Linked DNA regions of Homo sapiens: regions 1 and 2 are each linked to region 3. The links come from fine-mapping of genetic effects on gene expression. A gene starts in region 3. Each other region holds a variant in brackets. All regions are shown on one strand. Distances are between the middles of the regions. Region 1 overlaps LOC107984915 (a long non-coding RNA gene). Region 2 overlaps ERRFI1-DT (ERRFI1 divergent transcript). Region 3 holds the start of TNFRSF9 (TNF receptor superfamily member 9).

Region 1 (8,183 bases), 190 kb after region 3:
CACTCCAACCACCTGGGTGACAAACCAAGACCCCCTCTCTCTCTCTCAAAAAAAAGGGGGGGCTATTTTGGCCAGGTGCGGTGGCTCACGCCTGTAATCCCAGCACTTTGGGAGGCTGAGGTGGGCAGATCACTTGAGGTCAGGAGTTCAAGACCAGCCTGGCCAACATGGTGAAACCCCGTCTCTACTAAAAATACAAAAATTAGCCAGACATGGTGGCACGCACCTGTAATCCCAGCTACTCGGGAGGCTGAGACAGGAGAATTGCTTGAACCCAGGAGGCAGAGGTTGCAGTGAGCCAAGATCACACCACTGCACTCCAGCCTGGGTGACAGAGCAAGATCCTGTCTCAAAAAAAAAAAAAAAAAAAAAAGGGACATTTTATTGAAAACTTTTCAAATTCATGAAATGGAGAATAGAAAGATCAAAACTAAACATCTATAACACATCCCAGAGCATTTCTTGGAGCTTAGCTTATCTTGGCTTAGCTGCTTCCTTTATCTCCAGGGCACCCCCGGGGCCCTGACTAGCAGCTTTGTGACCCTCGAAACACACAGAGTGGTTCCACTGTCCCCCTTTGAGTGAGGGGCTTTGGTTTTGGGGTGGGGGCAAGAGGATTTGGTAGGGAATAGCAGGAGGAAAGTGATGATGACGGCTGGGGGGCTTGGGACAGGAGTGGGGAAAGGGATTGAGAAGAGAGCCAGAAATCTAAGCCAATTGCCCACTGTAGTCTAAAAGAATGGTGCTATACTCACAAACACACTGCTGTTTTTTCATTGTGGTGGTTGTTTTTTGAGACAGAGTCTCACTCTATCACCCAGGCTGGAGTGCAGTGGTGCAATCTCAGCTCACTGCAAACTCTGCCTCCCGGATTCAAGCGATTCTCATGCCTCAGCCTCCTGAGTAGCTGGGATTACAGGCGTGAGCCACCACACCCAGCTAATTTTTGTATTTTTAGTAGAGATGGGGTTTCACCGTGTTGGCCAGGCTGGTCTTGAATTCCTAACCTCAGGTAATCTGCCCACCTTGGCCTCCCAAAGTGTTGGGATTACAGGCGTGAGCCACCTGCCCGGCCCACACTGCTGTTTTGACACATGAAAATACTATGGTATCAAAGGGCCACGAGGAAACTACGAGGGTGATGGGTATGTTCACCGACTTGATGGTGGCAAATAGTTTTAGGGGTGAATTCATATGTCAAAAGTATCTACTCACCGTTAAGTGTTTATGTTTGTTTTATTCGATGTCTCAATAAAGCTGTCTATAAAAAACACTAAGGTATACAAGAATGCTAAAGCCTGTATTGCAGTTGCTAAAATGTGTCAAAATATAAACAGGTCTACCTGACACTGGGCTTTCTGTTGGGCATGGGGAGGGCCTGGGTTAGTAATTTATCTATAGGTCATGGGTGGCCTCAAGGATCTGAAAGGCCTCAGGTGAATTATTTTTATGGGGTCTGGCAATTAGTCTAGAGGTCCCCATTTTGTGCATTTAATTAACCCTTGAATGCAGGTGTCAGGGAGGAAAAACGTTGCCTCTACCCTCCTATGTTATATGATTAGGGGTCTGCGAATTAAACTACCAAAAGACAGGCCTGGCACAGTGGCTCACACCTGTAATCCTAGCATTTTGGGAGGCAGAGGTAGGAGGATCATTTGAGCCTAGGAGTTCGAGACCAGCCTGGGCAACATGGTAAGACCCCATCTCTACAAAATATACAAAAATTAGCCAGGTATGGTGGCACACGCCTGCAGTGCCAGCTACTCGGAAGACTGAGGTGGGAGGATAGCTTGAGCTTAAGAGGCGGAGGTTGCAATGAGCCAAGATAGAACCACTGCACTCTGTCTGGATGACAGAGCGAGACCCTGTCTCAAAAAAATGAAATAAAATAAAAGAGCAAAAAAAAAAAAAAAAAAAAACAGGTTAACAGGAGACAAAGCACACAATTTTTATAAACATTTACATGCATAAGAGTTTAAAAAAAAAAAGTGAAACTCAAAGAAGTGGTTAGGCTCAGGAATTTATACCATTTTAACAAAGAAAGGCAGGTTTGAGCTTGGAGAGACAACGGATCGTAGGAAAGTGACTAAGAAGCGTATGGGGACGAATGGGGAGTCAGGCGTTATTTCAGTAAGGGTCTCTTCATGTAGACTCATCTTGGAGCCAACCGCCTCTGGGGATGAGTGCTCTTCTCGTCCTCTGATGGGGGTGCAGGGACACCTTTACGGGGGAAATTGATGCCTGGCTTTCAGGCAGTGAAGGGGAGGGCAGAGAACTGTACTTGCTTGTCGATTCTCAAGTGCCTCCAGCTCAGAATAATCCTTAACGCCAAAGTGTGGTGGCACGCGCCTGCAGTCCCAGCTCCTTGGAAGGCTAAGGTGGGAGGATAGCTTGAGCTTAAAAGGTGGAGGTTGCAATGAGCATCCTATCTTTTAAAATTTTCTTTTAAATTCATTTTAATTTTTTAAATTAAAAATTTTTTTTATTTTTAATATTTATTATATAGAGATGGGATCTCACTGTGTTGCCCAGGCTGGTCTCGAACTCCTGGACTCAAGTGATCTGCCCACCTCAGCTTCTCAAAGTGCTGAGAGCCACTGCACCCGGCCTGGGGATGGCGTATTCTGAGTCCCTTCTCAGGGAAAACCATCAGCAAGTGAACATCACAGAGGGCTCTGTGTCTCTACTCCCCCCTCCCCCCGCCACCCCTGCCATTTTATTGGACTTGACTGTGGGACAAGGAGGTGTGGGAACCTGGGCCAGTCTGCCTTGAGGGTGACTGAGCTGGCACCCCTCTAGGGTTCGGCATTTTGCATATCTCCTCTTCCACGCCCTGGAGTCTCCATCCTCCTCCCTCTCTCTTGCCCTGGGCACCCGCACCTCCCCACAGATCATCTGCATTTCTGACTTCCTCCCTCTGTTCTCCTCCTGAGACTGGGTGCCAGGATCAGCTTTTGCATCTTTTAAAACCATATGCAGTATTTTCCCTCAAAGTTTGTTTCTCTAACGGGTTCACAGTTTTTCTGATTTACTGACTACACACTTTTATGAACACCGATCATTTATTTTTTCCAATACAAAATATTTTCTTCTGCTTAATATTTTCCATATAATATCTCCCTACTTTGAAAAACTTTTAAATAACCTCTTAAAAAAAAAAAGGAGTATGACTCAGAAGCCTTAAAAGCTGTGGCCACCAGCTGAGATCCTAAAATGACCCAACTGTGGAGCAGGGATAGAGTGAAATAAAATAAACCCCTTTCCAAGAAGCTCAGCCCTGGAGAAGAACATTTGTGAACAGAACTGTGGGCCTGTTGCCATTCTCCACCCTTCTGTTTGGGTTGGCCCCCATCCTACACGGTCATCTTCTCTCCTAACCAAAACAATGGCTGAGCTCATGGAGATTTTTACATTTTTCCTAAAAAGAAGTTTTATATCTCAATTAATATTTAAAATTCCAAGTTAGAAGGTACCTTTGGAAAAGTACATT[C/T]TTAGGTCAGAAACCCTGTCCTCTGAACACCACTTAAAATAACTCAACAGCCTGCACGAATCTGAGAATTCCAAGGTCATAGGTTTTTTTTAGCCTTGTTTGTAAGAACAACAAGACCAGCTCACACATGTCCAAGCGTATTACTCACAGTTAAAAGTAATAGTAAGATTTAATTGGTTTTCTTTTTTCTTCTGTGGTGTGTGTCTATTCATCAGCCTCTTGCCGCTCTAAGTTTTTCCTCCCTCCCTTAACCCACATCCTCAAGAAGAATTGAAGAATTTTCCAGTTATGCAATTTTGCCTGCAACTTTGCCTAGTGCTAGTCTGGAGTGGAGGAGGGGGTGGGGGATCTTCAGGTTCTGTTCCATTTCCTTAGCTCCCCCGACTCCGTAATTTGAAATCATGAACATTTTCGAACATACCAGAAACAGAGCAAATAGAACAATGAGCCCATCTTCCAACTCTAACAATCGTTACCATTTTTCAATGTTGTTTTGTTTAGTCTCCACGCTCCAGCCTCTTTCGTTTTGAAGTATTTTAAGCAAACCCTAGAAATAACATAATTTCACCCATAAATGCTTCAGTGTGTACCTACCACAGAGAATGTCTTGCCCCCAGTGTAATGCAATACTGCGATGAAGCTAATGCAATGAACAAAAACCCTTTAATAAGAACTGCTCCAGCCAGAGTGGACCCCAGGCAAGCATCTGGAGGCTGGCTCAGGGCCGTTGCTGGTCAGCAGAGTTGGTGGTCGGGGAGAAGTGGATGGGGACAGGAGAGTGGGGACAAGCTGGACTTCGTTGATACCTGTGTGTGTGTCTGTCATGCATCAAGTCTAAGAACTTTGGAGAGTCACGGCTGATGCTTCACGCAGCCTCCCGAATCCCACGACAGTGCCTCTTTGGGCCACCTCTTCACCCAGAACTCCACAGAGAAAGGGATGTGGAGGAATCTAGCTCCAGCTTCACCACAATGACGTGGTCCAAGCCACCACCACCCTTTCAGGCCCTGTCTGCTTTCCCATTTCCCTGCTTTCTCAATCATGGATTTTTACTGTTGGTTTGTACAGATTCGGAAACAAACAAAACACCAAGGTTGCCGCTGACTGTTCCGTCTCTTTTAATCTGCCACACTTCCTGCTCCATCTTTTCCCATGACATTGTTTCTTGATGTACCTGGGCCGTTTGCCCTGCAGAAATTCCCCATATCCGAATCTGGCCAGTTCTATGCTCCTGGTATAATGGTGGTTGGCTCTCGAGGCTTGATAAGGTTCAAGGTTTTGTTTTTGCTGTTTTGTTTTGTTAGCTTTTTGTTTTGTTTGTTTTGAGACAGGGTCTCGCTCTATTGCCCAGGCTGAAGTGCAGTGGCATGGTCTTAGCTCACTACAACCTCTGCCTCCTGGGGTCAGGTGGTCCTCCCGCCTAAGCTACCTGAGTAGCTGAGATTACAGGATTGCGCCAACATGCCCAGTTCATTTTTGTAGTTTTTTTTAGAGACGGGGTTTCACCATGTTGGCCAGGCTGCTCTCCAGCTCTTCAGCTCAAGTGATCAGCCCTCCTTGGCTTCCCAAAGTGCTGGGACCACTGCGCCCAGCCTGAGGTTCTTAGTTTTTTAACTCCCTTTGGGTTCCAAGTCTTGTCCAGGTCATAGGTGGCTGGGAGAAGCCAGGGAACAGTCAGTGGGCTACCTGGACTTTACTGAGCTTCCTTAACCACTGTGTGTGAATTGTCCCAGGTAGGGAAACTGCATAAATTCCATTGTTACAATTGGCTCTGTATCCACCTTGGAAATAGCTAGCTCAGTGTTTCTTCTTTCGGCTTGATGAATCTTCCACGCCTGGTAGTGCCTGTCTCACTTTAGATACCAACTGTAGTGTTTCAGTTGGATGAATGTCCAGTGGGAAGGAACCACATCTCTCCCCACCCTGTACGACAACTCTAGGTTCTCTGTTTAACAAAGGACATGGAAACTTATGGAAGTGGGACCCCTCTCACCAGGGTGGAAGCAGATGAAACACATTTCAGTGTAGCTTCTAGAGACCCACGGTGGCCTCTCCATGGATTCCCTAATGCGGCCGATTAACATTGTCCATGCGTTTTGCTATGTCCTTTAGCTTGTTTAGCCTGGTCTTATTGTCACAGTTCAAGAAGAACTTGCTCTAGCAATCTGTGACTTTTGTTCAAGATAATTTTTATCAACATTGAACTCTCCTCTTTCTTGAACCAAACTCAGCTTCAGCAAGCCCACATCCTCATCAGGGAAGAGAAGTCAGACTGAGTGCCTCAGTTTCCCCAAGCTCCATCTCTGCCGAAATTCCCACTGTTTTGGAAAGCCTCTTTCTCTGAAGTTGTTTACTCTCCAGCTCTGAACTGATGAGCTTTAGGATGAATGTTTGATACAGAGCTTGATGGGAGGATCATGATCCCACCATGTGATTTTTACATTAATCCTTTAAGATTTTCACTGAAGGCCAGGTGGCTCACGCCTGTAATCCCAGCACTTTGGGAGGCTGAGGCGAGAGCACTGCTTGAGCCCAGGAGTTCGAGACCAGCCTGGGCAACATGTGAAACCCTGTCTCTACAAAAAATACAAAAATTAGCCAGGTATGGTGGTGTGCACCTGTAGTCCCAGCTACTCAGGAGGCTGAAGTGGGAGGATCACTTGAGGTCCAGGAGGTCGAGGCTGCAGTGACCTAGGATCACCCCCACTACACTCTAGACTGGGTGACAGAGTGAGACCCTGTCTCAAAAATAAATAAATAAATAATAAAACAATGATGATATTTTTGAAAAGACCTCATGGATTGGTGAGAACACATCTACAGGCCAGAGCTCCACCAAGTGTGATTTCAAAACCCCAATCTGCCGTTCCACTTGTGTTTTGACAGAAGAATATGTGTTAGAGATAAGACAGAGCTCTCAGGAAGCCAGATCAAGGCTGACAGGGACAGGCGCCTCTCCTATGCACTAGGCTCACCAGTTAGAGTGTAATGGAAGCAAAAGGGAATGTACTAGAAGGGTCTCTTGGACTCATCCAACAGATGTGAGGTTGAGGCACTGAGTTTGAAAAGGGGCGGAAATTGGCCAGGCGCGGTGACCCACACCTGTAATCCCAACACTTTGGGAGGCCGAGGTGGGCAGATCACGAGGTCAGGAGATTGAGACCATCCTGGCTAACATGGTGAAACTCCGTCTCTACTAAAAAAGTAAAAAAAAAATTAGCTGGGCATGGTGGCGGGCACCTGTAGTACCAGCTACTCGGGAGGTTGAGGCAGGAGAACGGCGTGAACCCGGGAGGCGGAGCTTGCAGGGAGCGGAGATCAGGCCACTGCACTCCAGCCTGGGTGACAGAGTGAGACTCCGTCTCAAAAAAAAAAAAGAAAAAAAGGGGTGGAAATCATGTAGTTCCAGAAAGCTAGCAGCTCCGCATTCTTGCTGGGAGGCAGGTGCTTGGATTTGAGATTTCATCGGATTCCCTCAAAGGGGATGAGGGAAATTCATAAAAGGAAATTCAGATGCTCTAAGGATGGAAGAATGGCTAGAAAGCAACTGAAACCCAACAAAAATCCACAGCAGCAGGCAACTCAGACGAGTGTCTGTAATTTAAGTAGAAGGAGAAGCGCCAGCTTTCTTGTATCATGAAAACGTTTACAGTTTCTGGGCTTAGAAGAAAAAAGCCCTAAAACCTTGAGGATAAAGGAATTCATTTTCTAAAATTCAGTTCTATAAACAACACTGTGAAAGGCCAGAGGAAGGTTATCAGATGGGATATTTGTGTTTAATTTCTCAACTTACCACAATCCAGGAGCAGATTTATAGTCATTGGTTGGGAATGTGTCAGCGAGCACCCGAGGTCAGGGAAATGTGGTCTTTTGCATTTTGAAACACAGAACTGTATGTTTCTTCAGCTGCCGATTTACCAGCTCTCCGGAGACAATAGGCTGAGTTCATTTTGGCTGAGGGACACCGTGACTGACCGATTCTCTCTGGTCGCAGAAATCACGGCTTTCCTTGTTCAGGACATCTGACCAGCATTAGGGACTGGTGAGTCAGTCAGCTGTAAAGGATGGTTCCTCCAACTGGGGATCTGAGAGATCAGCAAAAAGGGATTTGGGAGGAAATGAAGTTTGTCATGCTGGGCCAGAGTGGTCATATCATTAGAGGCAGAAAAGTGTCTGCTTCCATTTCTGTTTGTTAAAAATAATTAAACACCTTGGGAGTCTCAGAGAGGTGCTCAGCCCGGAGTCCTTACAGCTGTCCTCAGGTTGCCGGTCCATAGCTGACCCCTACGGAAGCTCATGGACACCTGAAATTCGTTTTCATTTATAAATGTACACCCATAATGAATCTCTGATGAAAGGAAACTTAAGGAACACTGATGACGAAAAGAAAGGCCATCGATGAGAAGAGAATAATAAAATTTCTACAAGTTGGCTGTAACATGAGTTTTCCCAGGCTTTTTGTTTGTTTTGTTTTGGAGACAGGGTCTTGCTCTGTCACCCAGGCTGGAGTGCAGTGGCGCATTTCTGCTCACTTGCAATCTCCACCTTCTGGGTTCAGGTGATCCTCCCACCTCGGCCTCCCGAGTAGCTGGGACCGCAGGCACATGTCACCATGCCTGGCTAATTTTTTGTATTTTTTGTAGAGGTGGGGGTCTCGCCATGTTGCCCAGCTGGTCTCAAACTCCTAGACTCA
Region 2 (8,183 bases), 160 kb after region 3:
TTACAGGTGCCTGCTACCATGCCTGGCTAATTTTTGTATTTTTAGTAGAGACGGGGTTTTGCCATGTTGCCCATGCTGGTCTCAAACTCATGGCCTCAAGTGATCCCCCGCCTCGGCTTCCCAAAGTGCTGGGATTACAGGCATGAGCCACCACGCCCGGCCTATTAAAGAAATTAAATTTGTAATTTAAAAACTTCTGACTAAAAAGATACCAGGCCCAGATGGCTTCAATGGAGAATTTTATCAAATATTTAAGAAAGAAATAACATCAATCATATGCAAATTTTCAGAAAATAGAGGGAGAAGTAATACTTTCTAACTCATTTTATGAAGCCAGAATTACCATGACAAAATTATTATAATAAAGAAAATTATAGACCAGTATCATAGGTGCAAAATCCATAACAACATATTAACAAATCAAATCCAAAGATATATATATATATATATGGAGGTTAATACCATATAGGGTGTATTCCAGGAATTCAAGATAGATTTAATTTTCCATTTGTTGTTTTTTTTTGAGGCAGAGTCTCACTCTGTCACCCAGGCTGGAGTGCAGTGGCGCAATCTGGGCTCACTGCAACCTCCACCTTCTGGGTTCAATTGATTCTCCTGTCTCAGCCTCTGGAGTAGCCTGGATTACAGGTGCCCGCCACGACACGCAGCTAAGTTTTGTATTTTTAGTAGAGATGGGGTTTCGCCATGTTGGTCAGGCTGGTCTCGAACTCCTGGCCTCAAGTGATCTGCCCACCTCGGCCTCCCAAAGTGCTGGGATTACAGGCATGAATCACAGCACCCTGCCCAAGATTGGTTTAATTTTCAAACTAAATTGATGTAACTCACAGAATAAAGGAGAAAAAATTTCTGATATCTGTGTTGGTGGTCCCTAAGGCCTCCTCCAGATTCGCCTCCTAGAGAGGACTCACGGGCTTCAGGATCTAGTCATGCTCATGGCTAAGATTTATCACAGAGGAAGAACACAAAGTAAAACCAGCGAAGTCAAAAGGCACTTGGGGTGAAGTCTGGTGTGAGTTTCCAAAATTCATTTCCTCGTGCTGAACTCCCTCAGCAATGAGTTGTGACATGCGTGAAATGTTGTCTTCTAAGAAACTTGCAGAGACTCGGAGCCCAGGGTTTTCACAAGGGGCTGGTCACATAGGCGACCTTTGCATGGCACATACCAAAATTCCAGACTCCCCTCAAAAAAGGAAAATAGGTGTTCAGCGTAAACCACATGGTTTGTACCAAACAGGTTAGGCAACGTGAGACTCTCATGAGGCCTGGGAATAACGGGAACCCTCCTAAAATCTAAGTCGCAGATGCCAGCCAAAGGCTAACATTTGCAAACAGGACTTTCTTTATTTTTGATTTTATTATTATTATTATTATTATTATTATTATTATTTTTGTGTGTGTGATGGAGTCTCACTCTGTTGCCCAGGCTGGAGTTCAGTGGTGGGATCTCAGCTCACTGCAACCTCTGCCTTCCGGCTTCAAGTGATTCTTCTGCCTCAGCCTCCCTAGTAGCTGGGATTACAGACGCCTGCCACCACACCCAGATAATTTTTGTATTTTTAGTAGAGATGGGGTTCCACCACATTGGCCAGGCTGGTCTCAAACTCCTGACTTCAAATGATCAGCCCTCCTTGGCCTCCCAAAGAGCTGGAATTACAGGTGTGAGCCACCGCACCTGGCTGCAAACAGGACTTTCAAAGGAGAGCAGTCCCAGCCCTGCCATGTTAACTCTTCTCTACACAGTATCTCAGTAGATGTACCCCGTTCCCCCGAAAAGAAAACACTTCTGAAAAAATTTCATACCCACTCATAAACTCTCAGCAAATTGGTCATAAAAGGGAACTGCCTCAACCTAATGAAGGACAGCTTCAAAAAAACCCTACAGCTAACAATATCCTTAATAGTGAAACACTGCTTTTCCCTGAGATTGGGAAAGGACAAGGATGTCCACGCTCACCTTTGCTATTCAACATGTACTGGAGGTCCTCATTCGTGCAATAAAGCAAGAAAAATAAATAAAACCCACACATATTGGAAAGATGTAAAACTATTTTTACTCACAAGCAACATAATCTTGAACATAAAAAATCCAAAGGAATCTACCAAAATCAAAACAAAACAAAACATGTTATTAGCTATAAAGAGTGAGTTTTTTAAGGTTGAAGGATACAAGGTCAATATTAATTGAAATTTCTATATACAATTGCAAAAAATAGTTAAATTTCTATATGTAATAGTAACAAATTGAAATTCAATTGAGAATTGAATTTTTCAATTTTCAAACAATTGAAAATTCAGATAAAAATACCACTTACAATAGCTTCAAAAATCATGAAGTACTTAGGGATAATCTTAAGAAAATAAGAATAAAACCAATCTATAGAAAACTCTAAAATACTGCTAAGAGAAAATTTAAAATATAGAAATAAATAGGTAGCTAGACCATGCTGTGGATGGGAAGACTCAATATTTTTTTAAATGTCAATTATCTCCAAATTAATTTGTAGAGACCATGCAATGCCAAGTAAAATTTTAGCAAAGCTTTTGTAGCAAATGGTAAACTGCTCTTAAAATTGATGTGGAAACAAAAAGAGCCCACAAAGAACCCAATAAACTTATTTTGAAAATAAAGAACAACATTGGAAAATTCATATTACCTGATTTCTGGATTTAATATTCAGCTTCGGTAATTAAGACGGTGTGGTATCACTACACAAATAGACAGCTCAATAGAACAGAAAAGTGAAAACAGACCCACATATACCTAGTAAATTGATATTTGACAAAGTAGCCAGGATAATTCAGTTGAGGGGAAAGACAGTCTTTTCAACAAATTATGCAGGAAAAACTGGACATCTCCGTGGAAAACAGGAGCCCCGATGTTTATCTCATACCTTACATAAAACTAGCTTGAAATGGATCATACACCTTAACATAAAACTTAGAGATGAATATATAGGAGAAAAATCTTTGTAACCTTGGAATAGGCAAAGATTTCTCAGCTAGATATAAAAAGTATGAACTATAAAAGAATTGAAAATAGACTTCAAAGTTAAAAACTTTTGATTTTGGCAAGACACTGTTAAGAAAATGACAAGGCAGGTCACAGACTGGGAGACAGTATTTTCAGTACAGCAAGCTCATGAAAAGATGCCCCATATCATTAGATATCAGGGAAATACAAACTAAAACCCCATTGGAAGGCTAAAATTTAAGAACATGACAATACCAAGTGCTGGTGAGAATGTGGAACACCTGGAACTATCGTATGTTTACGGTCGTCATTCAACATGGTAAGACCGCTCTGGATAACAGCTCCACCATTTCTTATGAAGTTATATATGTGACTTTATTCCACTCCTAGGCATTTATTCAAGAGAAGTGATAGCACAGGCTCACATAAAGACATTTACCAATAAAGACATTGAGTCTTTATTCATAATAATTGTCAAAGAACCAGAAACAACCCAAATGCCCATCCACAGTGAATGAATACATTGTGACATGTCTATAAAAATGAGATTATTTTGAAATACAAAGGAACAAATTAATGATTCATATGGATGGATTTTAAAAACATGCCCAGTGAAAGAAGCCAGGGTATCTACTGTATGATTCTATTTATATGAAACTCTAGGAAAGACAAAGTGAATCTAGGGCCGGGTGTGGTGGCTCACGTCTGTAATCCCACCACTTTGGGAGGCCAAGGCAGATGGATCACCTGAGGTCAGGAGTTCGAGACCAGCCTGGCCAACATGGTAAAACCCTGTCTCTACTAAAAATACACAAATTAATCGGGCGTGGTGATGGGTGCCTGTAATCCCAGCTACTTGGGAGGCTGAGGCAGGAGAATCACTTGAACACGGGAGGTGGAGGTTGCAGTGAGCTCAGATCGTGTCTCCACACTCCAGCCTGGATAACAGAGTGAGACTCTGTCTCAAAAAAAAAAAAAAAAAAAAAAAAGCAAATCTAGAAGACAGGTCTCTGGTTGCCTTGGGCCAGGAGGGGTTGGTCCAGATTTACCAGGCAGGGACGTAAGGGAACCTTTTAGGGTGATAGAAATGTCCTTTATCTGTTTTTTTTGTGTGTGGGTGGGTTTTTTTTTTTTTTTGAGACGGAGTCTCACTCTGTTGCCCAGGCTGGAGTGCAGTGGCACAATCTAGCTCACTGCAACCTCTGCCTCCCGGATTCAAGTGATTCTCCTGCCTCAGCCTCCC[G/A]AGTAGCTGGGACTACAGGCATGCACCACCACACTCCGCTAATTTTTTAATTTTTAGTAGAGATGGGGTTTCACCATGTTGTCCAGGCTGGTCTCAAGCTCCTGACCTCAGGTGATCCATCTGCCTCAGCCTCCCAAAGTGCTGGGATTACAGGCGTGAGCCACTGTGCTCAGCCAGAAATATTCTATAGCTTAATCGTGATGATGGTTACATGGGTGTACATATTCATCTGTCGAAACTCACGTTGCATACTTAAAGTTTATACATTTTATGGTATGTAAATTATACCTTAATGAGGTTGAGTTTAAACCTCCAGAACTTTTCTCATCTTGCGTGATTGAAACTGTGTGCCCATTAAACAACCCCCCACTCCCTCTTCTGCAGCCGCTGGCAACCACCATTCTACTTTCTGTCTCTATTCATTTGGCTGTTCTCGGTACCTCATGTAGGTGGAATCATACAGTGACTGTCTTTTTGTGACTGCCTTATCTCACTTAGCATAATGTCTACAAGGCTCATCTATTCAAATTTTTTTGAGGGGCCATTATAATGATTTTTTGTAATGCATGGCAGCCTTGCTCCTTGCCATATTGCCGCCCCCTAACCCCACATGAGTCCCAGCTTCAGCAAATGACTCCCATCTGGTGACGTCATTATCCCCATCTTCTGCTCCAATCATTGCCATTCGCCCAGAGTTTAGAAGGGGCTGCAGAATAAGGAAGTGCACGGGCTGGGGAGAAACAGCATGTTAGGTAAGGAGAATTCCCCTTAGACAGAAAGAGGAAACACAAGCCCTTTCACTAGGGACAAAAGTCAAAGCTGACAAGACTGAGATTAAGACATTGCCTAGAGCCCTCAGGTCAACAGAGAGCCCTACTTCCTGCATCCAGTGGTTTACCTTTTTTTTTTTGGACATAAGGTCTTGCTCTGCCACTCAGGCTGGAGTACAGTGAGTGGTGCCATCGCGGCTCACTGCAGCCTTAACCTCCTTGGCTCAAGAGATTCTCCCACTCTGCGTAGCTGGGATCACAGGCACGAGCCACCATGCCTGGCTGATGTTTGTATTTTGGTAGAGATGGGGTTTTGCCACGTTGCCCAGGCTGGTCTCGAGCTCCTGGGCTCAACCATTCCTCCCGCCTAGGCCTCCCAAAGTGCTAGGACTACAGGCATGAGCCACCGTGCCAGGCCACTTGATCTACCTTTTAAGACACACCTTGGCGTGCCTGAAGTCAAACCTTGACACAAAGCTGAGACACGTGTTCCCAATCATCTAACTCCATAGTGTCATTTGCAGATAGAGGTCGTGGCAGCAAGTAATCACAGTTTCTATTGACCATATGGAGGTATGAAGGCAACTGCTTCATTAATTTTTTGAAGCCAGTGATTATTAAGGATGGAATCTGTTATTATTTCAATGTTTATTGAGGACCCATAATGTGCTACACACTTGTTTTGATCACCAAATAAACAGTCTGCAAAAAGCAATATGGCTGTGGTTGCTTCAAATTTCCAGGTCATGGGGACCAGTTGCAAGGGAAGCATGAGTGACTGGATAAATATTAATGAGCATCATGTGGATGAGCATAGGGAACCTATATTTAAGGTAATATAATTTAAACTATATTTAGGAGGAGGATGCTGTCTGAGGTGTTGATTATAACCCAGGAAGGAGATCCGTAGGTCATAGTAACCAAGTCAGACCATGCTGGGGACCATCTGCAGGTGTGTTGGAAACAAAGTATATTTTCATGCTATTGAATGTATATTGGGTGAACCAATGAATAAACGAACAATTTTAGCAAATCACTTGTCTTTCTGGCTCTCAGGACAAACACCAAAATGGCCTTGCTATTAAAATGTAAACCTTTTCTTTCTTCCTGAACCAAGACTCTCAGGCCGTGCAGAGTTTCTGTTCTTAACTTTGGTTTCCTTGGCTGGGCACGGTGGCTCACACCTGTAATCTCAGCACTTCGGGAGGCCGAGGTGGGCAGATCACCTGAGGTCAGGAGTTTGAGACCAGCCTGGCCAACATGGTGAAACCCTGTCTCTAATAAAAATACAAAAATTAGCCAGGTGTGGTGGCGGGCACCTGTAATCCAAGCCACTTGGGAGGCTGAGGCAGAAGAATTGCTTGAACCCGGGAGTCGGAGGTTGCAGTGAGCAGAGATTGCATCACTGTACTCTAGTCTGGGTGACAGAATGAGACTCCGTCTCAAAAAAAAAAAAATTTTTTTTTGGATTCCAGTGTGAGACTCCTTATTAGGAAAAACATTGTTGACTAATACATGGTTATCTAGTCCTGTGGTGACAACCTATTTTTCATGAAGTCAAGTCAGGAAAAAGAAAAAAGATTTTTAAAAAAAGTCCCTATTTAAAATCAGAATAGATTTGAGACCCATAGAAAATATGTAGACTTAAAAAATTTAGATAATCTTATTGACTCAGTAATAAAATGCCTTTGAGAAAAATGGAACTGCATTGCTAACATCAGCTACATCAGTCTGTAGTAAAATGAAAATCTTTTCTAATCTTTTATCCAGAAATTAGATCTTGGCCTGTGTAATGACAAGAATTGGTCTATATGTCCTTCATCACGGATGTGGCCCTTTGTGGCTTAGGTTATTGGCTGTGACTATCACTGGTGAGACGTGCTCCCTGCCTCTTCCCTCACGCCTTCTACCCAAACAGCAGTATAGCTTAAAATAAGGAATTTAATGACTGGTGCAAGATATAATAATACTTTAGCCATATTGTGTATAACATATGTAACCATAATGTATATAACATACACATGAGAATTAAAACATGCTGTAATTAGAAAGATCATTACATTGTTTGTAATTAAATATTTAAGTACATGCCCTGTGTCAAGCGCAGTACAAGCTGTTGGGCAAAAAGGACTAAGCAATAATAAAAAAGACATAATGACGAGTGCCAATGAGGAAGTGGAGAAACTGAAAGCCTTGTACACTGCTGGTGGGATTTTAAGATGGCGCAGCTGCTTTGCAAAGCAGTTTGGCAAGTTCCTCAAACAGCTAAACATGGTGTCACCATATGACCCAGCAATTCCACAACTAATTATGTACCCAAGAGATACGAAAATATATGTCCGTGAAAAACTTGTACACAAATGCTCATAGCGGCATTATTCCTAATAGTAAAAAAGCAGAAACGACCCAAATGTCCATCAGCAGATAAATGGATAAGTAAAATGTCACGTACATCCACACAGGAGTGTTATTTGGCAATAAAAAGCAATAACCACATGCTATGCTGTGGTCTGAATGTCTGTGCCTCTCCCATCCCCCAAAATTCCTATGTTGAAACCTGATCTCCAATGCAAAAGTATTAAGAAGTGGGACATTTAAAGCTGGGCATGGTGGTGTGTGCCTGTAATCCCAGCTACTCGGGAGGCTGAGGCAGGAGAATCGCTTGAACCTGGAAGGCAGAGGTTGCAGTGAGCCGAGATCGCACCACTGCACTCCAGCCTGGGCAACAGAGATACTCCGACTCAAAAAACAAAACAAAACAAAACAAAATTGTACCTAAAATTCCCCATACTTTTAGAAATTTAAAAGTTTCTAAATAATGTAATATAAAATAAAATATCATTATAGAAACAAGGAAGTATTTGAGAGTGAATGAGAAAAATAATTACACATTAGAACTGGAAGAATCTTGCTAAAGCAATAATTAGAGTAAAAATTTTAGCCGTAAATGTTTCTTTATATTAGAAAGGAACTGCTGCTGTTAATTAGTGAGCCAAGCATTCAGTGTAACAAATTGGATTAAGGACTTCGGAATGAATGTGAAGAAAGTAAAAACAAGGGAATACTCAAAATAAAAACAGAAATCAGTGAAATCGATAACAAAGAAATAGAAAGGATTCATAAGGAAAAATGGGTTCTTCGAAAAGACCAAAAAAAGAAACACTCACTTCAGCAAAAC
Region 3 (8,159 bases):
CATTTTCATCATTTTGTAACTTTTCCTGTGATGAACTTAATATAAGTCATTACCATAATGCAATCTGCACAAATTGTTCAATAATTCTTGAAACAACACCCTAAGATGGCTAGTTTTTATTTTAATTGTACATAAAGTATTGTATATGTCTGGAACATGTGAAGATTAATGGTTCTGGCAATTAACAAATGTTCTGATTTCAAATTATTTCCATTTATGAAGAAATAACGGAAATATTTTATTAATTGAAATATTTTATTAATTAAAATATGATATATCATATACTCCCTTGTTACTTTAAGGTTCTACAAATCTGTTTGTTTATTTTCAAAGGATCAAGATCAAAGCTAAGTTTGTCTATGTCACAAAACTACACTAGATCAAAGAAACGCAAACGTACCTTTTTTTGTCAGTTCTTGACCTTGTTTACAATCCTGTTCACACATGCTGCATCCTGCCCCCAGGCAGTGAAACCCTGGAGTGCAGTCACACTCTGCATTGCTGGTGGAGGAACACTCCTTCCTGGTCCTGAAAACACCTACAAAGTCCCCCCAGCCCCCAACATTTTATTACACTTGACCTCCAAATCCAGGAAGCGAATTTATGCTCTGCAGTAAAAATCATGCTCACTCTACTTATAGTGTTCCCAGTAATTTTAAAGTTTACTTTTAAATCTCCATAAAGACATTTTTACATTTAGGTAAGTAAAAACTTCTCTCTTGTCAAATGAATGTTTCCTCTAATATTTAGAAAGCTCAGTCCACAAATAATTGCTGTCACTGGATATTATTGTCCTAGACCTGCTGGTTGGCAGAAGAATCAGTCTTTGACACTTGAGATTTTCAAAAGAGAGCAGTTAGTAAATGGGAAAGAAAAGCTTATCTTCCCAACTATCTTCTAGAAGAAGAAAATATCTTTGAACTCATACCTTTACACTGCCTGCATATGTCACAGGTCCTTTGTCCACCTGCGCTGGAGAAACTATTTGGAGGACAGGGACTGCAAATCTGATTCCTGTTATTATCACAGAATGTACCTAAGAAAGGCAGACAATAGTGGTACACGTTTGACAATGGGCAATCGTCACCCAAGGCATTCCGAAGTTTACAATAAAATAAGATTATAAAAGAATGATGAGTTTTCTAGATGCCACAGTGGTGGACATTAGTTTGATTGACTTCCTAAAACAATACATTTGCAAGATTATTCTTTGTGTAATCACAGAATTAGAAATAACAAAATACAGGCCAGGTGCAGTGGCTCACGCCTGTAATCACAGCACTTTGGGAGGCCGAAGCGGGCAGATCACCTGAGGTCAGCAGTTCAAGACCAGCTTGGCCAACATGGTGAAATCCTGTCTCTACTAAAAATACAAAAATTAGCCAGGCGCAGTGGTGCACACCTGTAATCCCAGCTACTCGGGAGGCTGAGGCAGGAGAATTGCTTGAACCTGGGAGGCCAAGGTTGCAGTGAGCTGAGATCGTGCCACTGCACTCCAGCCTGGGCGACAGAGTGAGACTGTGTCTCAAAAAAAAAAAAAAAAACATACACACACAAAAAAAACAAAAAAACCAGATATTGTAACAAATAAATCAACAGAAAGAAAATACTTTATCTATTGAATAAAACAAAATGATTATCTTGATTGATGTAGGAGATGAATATGACTGGATCCAGGAGGACATCAATGTCCTACACTAAAATTTAAATGCGACTGACCGTCCCCACTCTGTTAAGCCCTTTACTACGCGCTTACTCGCTGCTATGCCCCCAGTCGGAGCACAAAGCCCTACACACAAAACTAACATTTATTGAAGTCTTGCCTTGTGCCATGCACTGTTCTAAGCCCTTCATTTGATCCTCCCAGCCATCCTATAAAACAGGTTCTCTTATTATCCCCAGATGAGAAAGTCAAGGCACAAGAGGTTGAATGACTTTGCTGTGTTCACACAGCTAGGTTGTAGCATCCAATAAACATTTGTAAATGAATGAATTTTCATTTTCCTTTCCTTAAAAGGGAGCTCGTTAGCCCTGACTACTAGACTAACTGAACCATACTTCCAACAGAGCAGATCAAATGCACATGATAACTGGGTACTCACCAGCTGGGCAGTTACTACAAGGATCCTGCAATGATCTTGTCCTCTCAAAGTTGAGGACCAGCAACAGAGTGGCTACTATGTTGTAACAGCTGTTTCCCATGATGAAATCTGGCACAGGTATGATACTAGCAAAGCTGATTCCAAGAGAATTTTAATCAAATTAGCTGGTCTCACAAATGTCACTCTGCAAAAGATAAACATTTCCAAGGAAAGGTGGTTTCTCCTTTCAAAATTATCTATATTGCAATCATTACTTATACAATTCTATAAGAGGATAACTCAGGGTTTTTCAGGAACAATTAATGATGCAATATTACGGAAAAGTAGCAGATTCATAGAAACCACTAGGACAAGGCAGGCGTGATTAAACACACAGCTTTGTGCCGGTTTGCCAAAGTTTGAGGGTGCATTTTCCATCATGTTCTGCCAAAATGCAGAAATAACAATAGCAAGAACTTTTGGGGACTTTCATAGGTACTTTGCAGTACCAACCAGCAATAATGCCAATTACTTATTGCCCCTGAAATAAACTCCTTACAAAGAGAATCTGTCAGGGGCATCAGACAATTCAGTTCAAGAAGAAGCTATCACATAATCACTCTTCCCCCTTTAGCTGAACACCTAACTACTAACATGTGGAAAGACCTCCCTGTTCAACTCACTAACACATTTTCTTAAACAGAGACATGTTTTGAGATGTGAAGTTTGTATGGTAACAAAACTAAGGAGTGAAAAACTCTTCAGGCTAAGTTATTGATGTTTATTTAAAGGGCTATTGAAGAGAAGTTATTACATATTAGGAGAAAAAGTCTAGAAATGGGCAAAGGGAGCAAAAGTTCCAATCTCACCCCTTCTCAGTGCCCCCACCCACTCCCCCAGATGGACAGACCTTGAGATCTCAGGGCTGCCGGAGAACTTTCCACTCCTTGGTCTTCAGGCTTCTGCAGCTCGAGAGGACTTCAGGTCAAACACAGGAGTGCGGTGACTCAGCCAGGGGCGGGGTCTCATGGGAAATTCCCACCACAGCTCTGTGACAGCCCTATGAAATCATTCATTTCATATCTGCTGACCCCGAAATCCCCTAGAGCCCCCGTCCCTGCCTGATAATGGCACTTCAAATTGCTTCTTGGAAGCAGCTCTCTACTGTCAGGATGTGTCACAGATGACGCTGGGAAAACGATTTTGTCCCTTAAGATAGCTCTCCAGGACAAAGCATTTAGCATGTCCTTAAAACACTGGATTTGAGATTAGAGGAATGAAACCAAATTCAAAACAGTGATCAGCATTTTGCCATATGCGGTCCCCTAACTCCATAGTCACTGTAATGCAATAGCTGCCATTACTTGAGCACAGCCGATGTGCCAGGCATCAGAGATGCACTGCGGTGAATACACACTATCCTCGAAAGAACCCTAGAACTTGGTATGACTGCTGTTGTTACTGGGAGAACACTATGCAAATGAGGAAAGTGGGGCTGCAAGTGGAATTAGAGCGTCAACAGGACAGGGAGCAGGCAGGGTTGGAACCCAGGTCGGCCTGGTCCCTTATCGTGCTCCTCCGGGCATGGGTGACAGAGGGAGGAAGGAGGGAGAAATGGAGGGAAATGGAAACAGGGGAAGCACAGCAGTCACACGGCAAGTCAATGACCAGGACGTGGTTCGGTGAAGCTGAGAGCTAGGAGGGATTTTTAGAAAACCATGATTTCAATTTTTCTTTAAAAAAAAAAAAAGGAGAAAGAGACCAGGCGCGGTGACTCATGCCTGTAATCCCAACACTTGGGAGGCCGAGGTGGATGGATCATCTGAGGTCAGGAGTTTGACACTAGACTGTCCAACATGGCAAAAACCTGTCTCTACTAAAATTACAAAAATTAGCAGGGAATGGTGGCGGTGGACCCCTTTAATCCCAGCTACTGAGGCTGAGGCAGGAGAATCGCTTGAACCTGGGAAGTAGAGGTTGCAGTGAGCCGAGATTGCGCCACTGCACTCCAGCCACAAAAAAAAAAAAAAAAAGAAGAAGAAGAAGAAGAAGAGGAAGAGGAGGGCAGAGAAAGCAGAAGGAAAAAAAAGTACAGTAAGAGGAGAGGAGGAGTATAAGGAGAAAGAAGAGGGAGAAGAGGAGGAGGAGGAGAAAAATAAAGAGAAAAGGAGGAGGAGGAGGAAGAAGAAAAGAACAGAAAGAGAAGGGGAAGAGGAAGAGGAGAAGGAAGAATGAGGAGGAGAAAGAATGAGACGGAAGAATGAGGAGAAGGAAGAGTGAGGAGGAGAAAGAATGAGAAGGAAGAATGAGGAGAAGGAAAAAGGGGTGTTTCTGGAGGAGGAGGAGGAGGAGGAGGAGGAGGAGGAGGCGGCTGCTCCAGGCTGTAGATGAACCTGCCCATCATTGAGCAGCTGGAGAACCTCAGGAAAACCAGGGGAACTGTGGCTGGGGCAGGCGTGGGCTGGGGAAGGACATCGAGAGTAGCTTGGGCCGTCCTCCTGCCCCGCGGTTCCCAGCACGAGCTCTCCCGACAGAAGAGGAAAACGCGGCGCGACTCGGTTGGGGGACAGCGCTGAGATGCGGACAGATGCGGACGTTCTGCCGCCGCCTGCAGGCAGAGGGACTCGGAGATCAGGCCGCAGAAGCAGAAGAAGGCAGACGGGAAGGAGGAGGAAGGAAAGGAGCCTTGTGGCTTCGTGTCCGACCCTCCCGCCCTTGGCCCGCGTGCCTGGAGCCAGCCCCACCGCGCCCGCGTTTCCTCCCGCGGGACTTCCCTTGGCCCTGGGTCTGCAGCGGGTCCTGCCGAGCTTCCTTCCCTCAGGCAGCCTCTCTCTCCCTGGCCACTCTCGGGGGTGAGGGGGGTTACCGGTTCCCAGTGATTTTTATTCCCTTTGCTCTCTCACGCCTCATGTTCCCCATTCTCCTGCCTCAGTTGTGTAATCTTGAGCAAATTTCTCAACCTCCCTAACTCTGTTTTTGCAAGCACATCTTACAGGTGCAGTGACACCATACATCTTCCTCGTGAGTGAGGATTAAATGAGACGATGAGCATGAAATACTTAGCTCAATGCTTGGCACATAGTTCTCAAGAAAGTAGGAATTGCTATGATCAGACTTACTGGTTTGAAATGTTCCTTCCCTGCCTCCCACACTGACCATCAGTAGAGCCACCACAGGGCAAGTCATGACAGAAAAGGAGAAAAACGCATGAGCTGCCTGCAAAATGTGTTCCCAAATACTGACGGTCATCTGAGAGTTATCTTACCTGTGACATCTGTGGGATCCCTCCTTGCCCCACTTTGGCAGAAATTGGCTGAATGTGAGAGTGTCACACCATAAAAATCGGACTGCTGATCCCCTCCTAACACTTTGAAAGTCACCATCTAACCAAGTAATCTCCTTGTTTACATGTGGTACTCTGTTTAACATTGCAGTGTGACATTTAACTGGGCCATATTTCATTTAACTAAATGCTACTCACTAGTCTACGTTTTGGACATTCTGTAGGCAGAGACATTACTTCCTCTGAAAGTGACATATTTAGTTTCCCAGCACAGTAATTAGCTCACTATTTCAGGCTTTTATGCCAGTAACATAAGAGTCTTTACTGAGCTAAAAGAGTCTCAACATTAGTTTTGCCAGCCCACAGTTAAACAAAGTCAACCACTTCAGAATTCTGCTACTGAAGGCTATGCTCAACTTTACTCAGGCGTTTAAAAAATTCATGGCTGGGAACAGTGGCTCACACCTGTAATCTCAGCACTTAGGGAGGCTGAGGCAGGAGGATCGCTTGAGCCCAAGAGTTCAAGATGACCTGGACAAGATGCCCAGACCCTGTCTCTACAAAAAATACAAAAATTAGCTGGGTGTGGTGGCATGTGCCTGTGGTTCTAACTACTTGGGAGGCTGGGATGGGAGGATTGCTTGAGCCTGGGAGGTCGAGGTTGCAGTCAGCCATGTTTGCACCTGTGCACTCCAGCCTGAGCAACAAAACTAGACTGTCTCAAAAAAAAAAAAAAAAAGAATTCATGTTACTGCATGCATTTTTGTGTGGTATAAAATCATCGTAGTAAGCTAAGTCAAATTATATAGTTAACCAGATATACATACTATCTAAGCTAGCCAAAGGTGTAATACTCTTTTGGTATAATTTTCATTTGCTTTATAACATGTATCATATTGCTTTATCCATTGTAGCCCTGTAATCTTTCAAATGCAACAAAAGCTTTTTCTATTCCATAAAACCATCTCAAACTAAATCAGAGATGACCCCGACAAGACAGCAACACTTTAGCAGTATTAATAATATTAATAATATGTTTCATCCATCCTAAGCAGTATTAATAATCTGTTTCATCACATCCTAAGCATCTCATTCTAAACCAAGAAATAGGCCGGGTGCAGTGGCTCATGCCTATAATCCCAGCACTTTGGGAGGCTGAGGTGGGAGGATCACAAGGTCAGGAGATCGAGACCATCCTGGCTAACATGGTGAAACCCCATCTCTACTAAAAATACAAAAAAAAATTAGCAAGGCGTTGTGGCAGGTGCCTGTAGTCCCAGCTACTCTGGAGGCTGAGGCAGGAGAATGGCGTGAACCCGGGACACGGAGCTTGCAGTGAGCCCAGATCGTGCCACTGCACTCCAGCCTGGGCGACAGGGCGAGACTCCATCTCAAAAAAATAAATAAATAAATAAAATAAAAAAAAAATAAATAAATAAATAAACCAAGAAATAGATTTTATTTCATTTTGATTGACTATAGGTCTAATCTTGAATATCTCAAGCAGCTAAATACTTTGAGGCTAAATAGCATGAAGGCCCAACAATTCTAAACAGGATAAAGGAGACATTTAGAAAGAGAAAGCCCTCAAAATAAGCTTCCTATAAAATATTCTTCCGCCCTTCCAGGGCGCATCTTAGAGGGAATCTCTTCCGTGGGATATTCACTGTTTACACTTGTTTTCTGCCTGAAAGATCTATTCTTTCAAGATTCAGTGTCGCCACCCCTACTCCAAACACCCAAACTAGTAGTCACTATTAGACATACCTGGTGCTTGTGATGTCAGTAGGTGTTCTGAGGCCTGGGAAGGAGTAAATTGTTTTTAAACTTGGAACAAAGAAAATGAGCAGGAAATCAAAGAGGAAGGAGGCAGAGTAAGGAGAAGGAAGTACGAATCATAAGGAGAGGCGGGTGTCAGCAGCCATCGACTTTGCTCACCTTTCCTCCTTGTTCTGCCCTTTCTCCAGGTGGCATCCACTCATATGCTAAGGCTTATCAATAGTTGTCTCCAACTTCAGACCACCCCCAACACTGTGCAGTCCCCAGGACAAGAGTACAAACAGAGGCCTGCTTACCATGTGTCCAAATATTTAGAAATTGTTCATCAATCCAAATACGCTGTTAAGTATGTTCTGTCCAGAGCAGAGACACAAACACACAAACACAATGAACACAGAGCTGCGTCTGTGACTGGGTGTCTGGCGCACGGTGCTGGCATAGGGATGCATTAACTCGGCTCCATCTGCTCTCTGGACCCACACTGCCAGGCCTGGGTGAAGACTCCCCCACATCCCTGGATCCATGTCCTTGAAACTCCATTTGAGGGTGACACCGTGCTGTGAGAGTTGTGAGCTGTGCTGTTGCCTCCAAGAACGGCAGGGAGGGTGTGAGCCATAGAAGTACCAGGCAGACAAAAGGCAAGTAGATTTGTCAAATCCATCTCAGATACCAAGGGTGTAACAGATTCTTGTATAATCTATTATTATGCAAGAATATCACAGACAGTGGTATTTCCCTACAGTCCCAAGTATCCTTTTTTTTTTTTTTTTTGAGACAGGGTCTCACTCTGTCACCCAGGCTGTAGTGCAGTGGTGCAATCTTGGCTCACTGCAGCTTCTGCCTCCAGGGTTCAAGGGATTCTTCTGCCTCAGCCTCCCGAGTAACTGGGACTACAGGTGCGCACCACCTTGCCCAGCTAAGTTTTATATTTTTTTGTAGAAAGGGGTTTTGCCATGTTGCTCAGGCTGGTTATCCACTTGCTTGATCCAATTTATGGCCCACTTGGTGGTTTTGGA

What was found. PIP is the estimated chance that this variant, and not a neighbour inherited with it, causes the effect.
Region 1: its variant is fine-mapped to the expression of TNFRSF9 in whole blood (TOPMed, PIP 0.99).
Region 2: its variant is fine-mapped to the expression of TNFRSF9 in whole blood (TOPMed, PIP above 0.99).

What each region holds. Positions count from the first base shown.
Region 1 is chr1:8,130,568-8,138,750 of GRCh38, forward strand. LOC107984915 (a long non-coding RNA gene) reads right to left here. Exons shown (of 3, transcript XR_001737893.1): 2 at 7,284-7,575. Among named protein-coding and RNA genes, the nearest start is that of LINC01714, 74 kb to the right of the region's middle. The variant C/T (reference allele first, on the strand shown) is at 3,491.
Region 2 is chr1:8,099,775-8,107,957 of GRCh38, forward strand. All of the region lies in intron 2 of ERRFI1-DT (ERRFI1 divergent transcript), which reads left to right. Among named protein-coding and RNA genes, the nearest start is that of ERRFI1-DT, 77 kb to the left of the region's middle. The variant G/A (reference allele first, on the strand shown) is at 4,236.
Region 3 is chr1:7,937,793-7,945,951 of GRCh38, forward strand. TNFRSF9 (TNF receptor superfamily member 9) reads right to left here and starts at 3,047. Exons shown (of 8, transcript NM_001561.6): 1 at 2,992-3,047; 2 at 2,103-2,286; 3 at 929-1,036; 4 at 401-538. The coding sequence starts at 2,202. RefSeq lists a silencer at 4,751-4,890.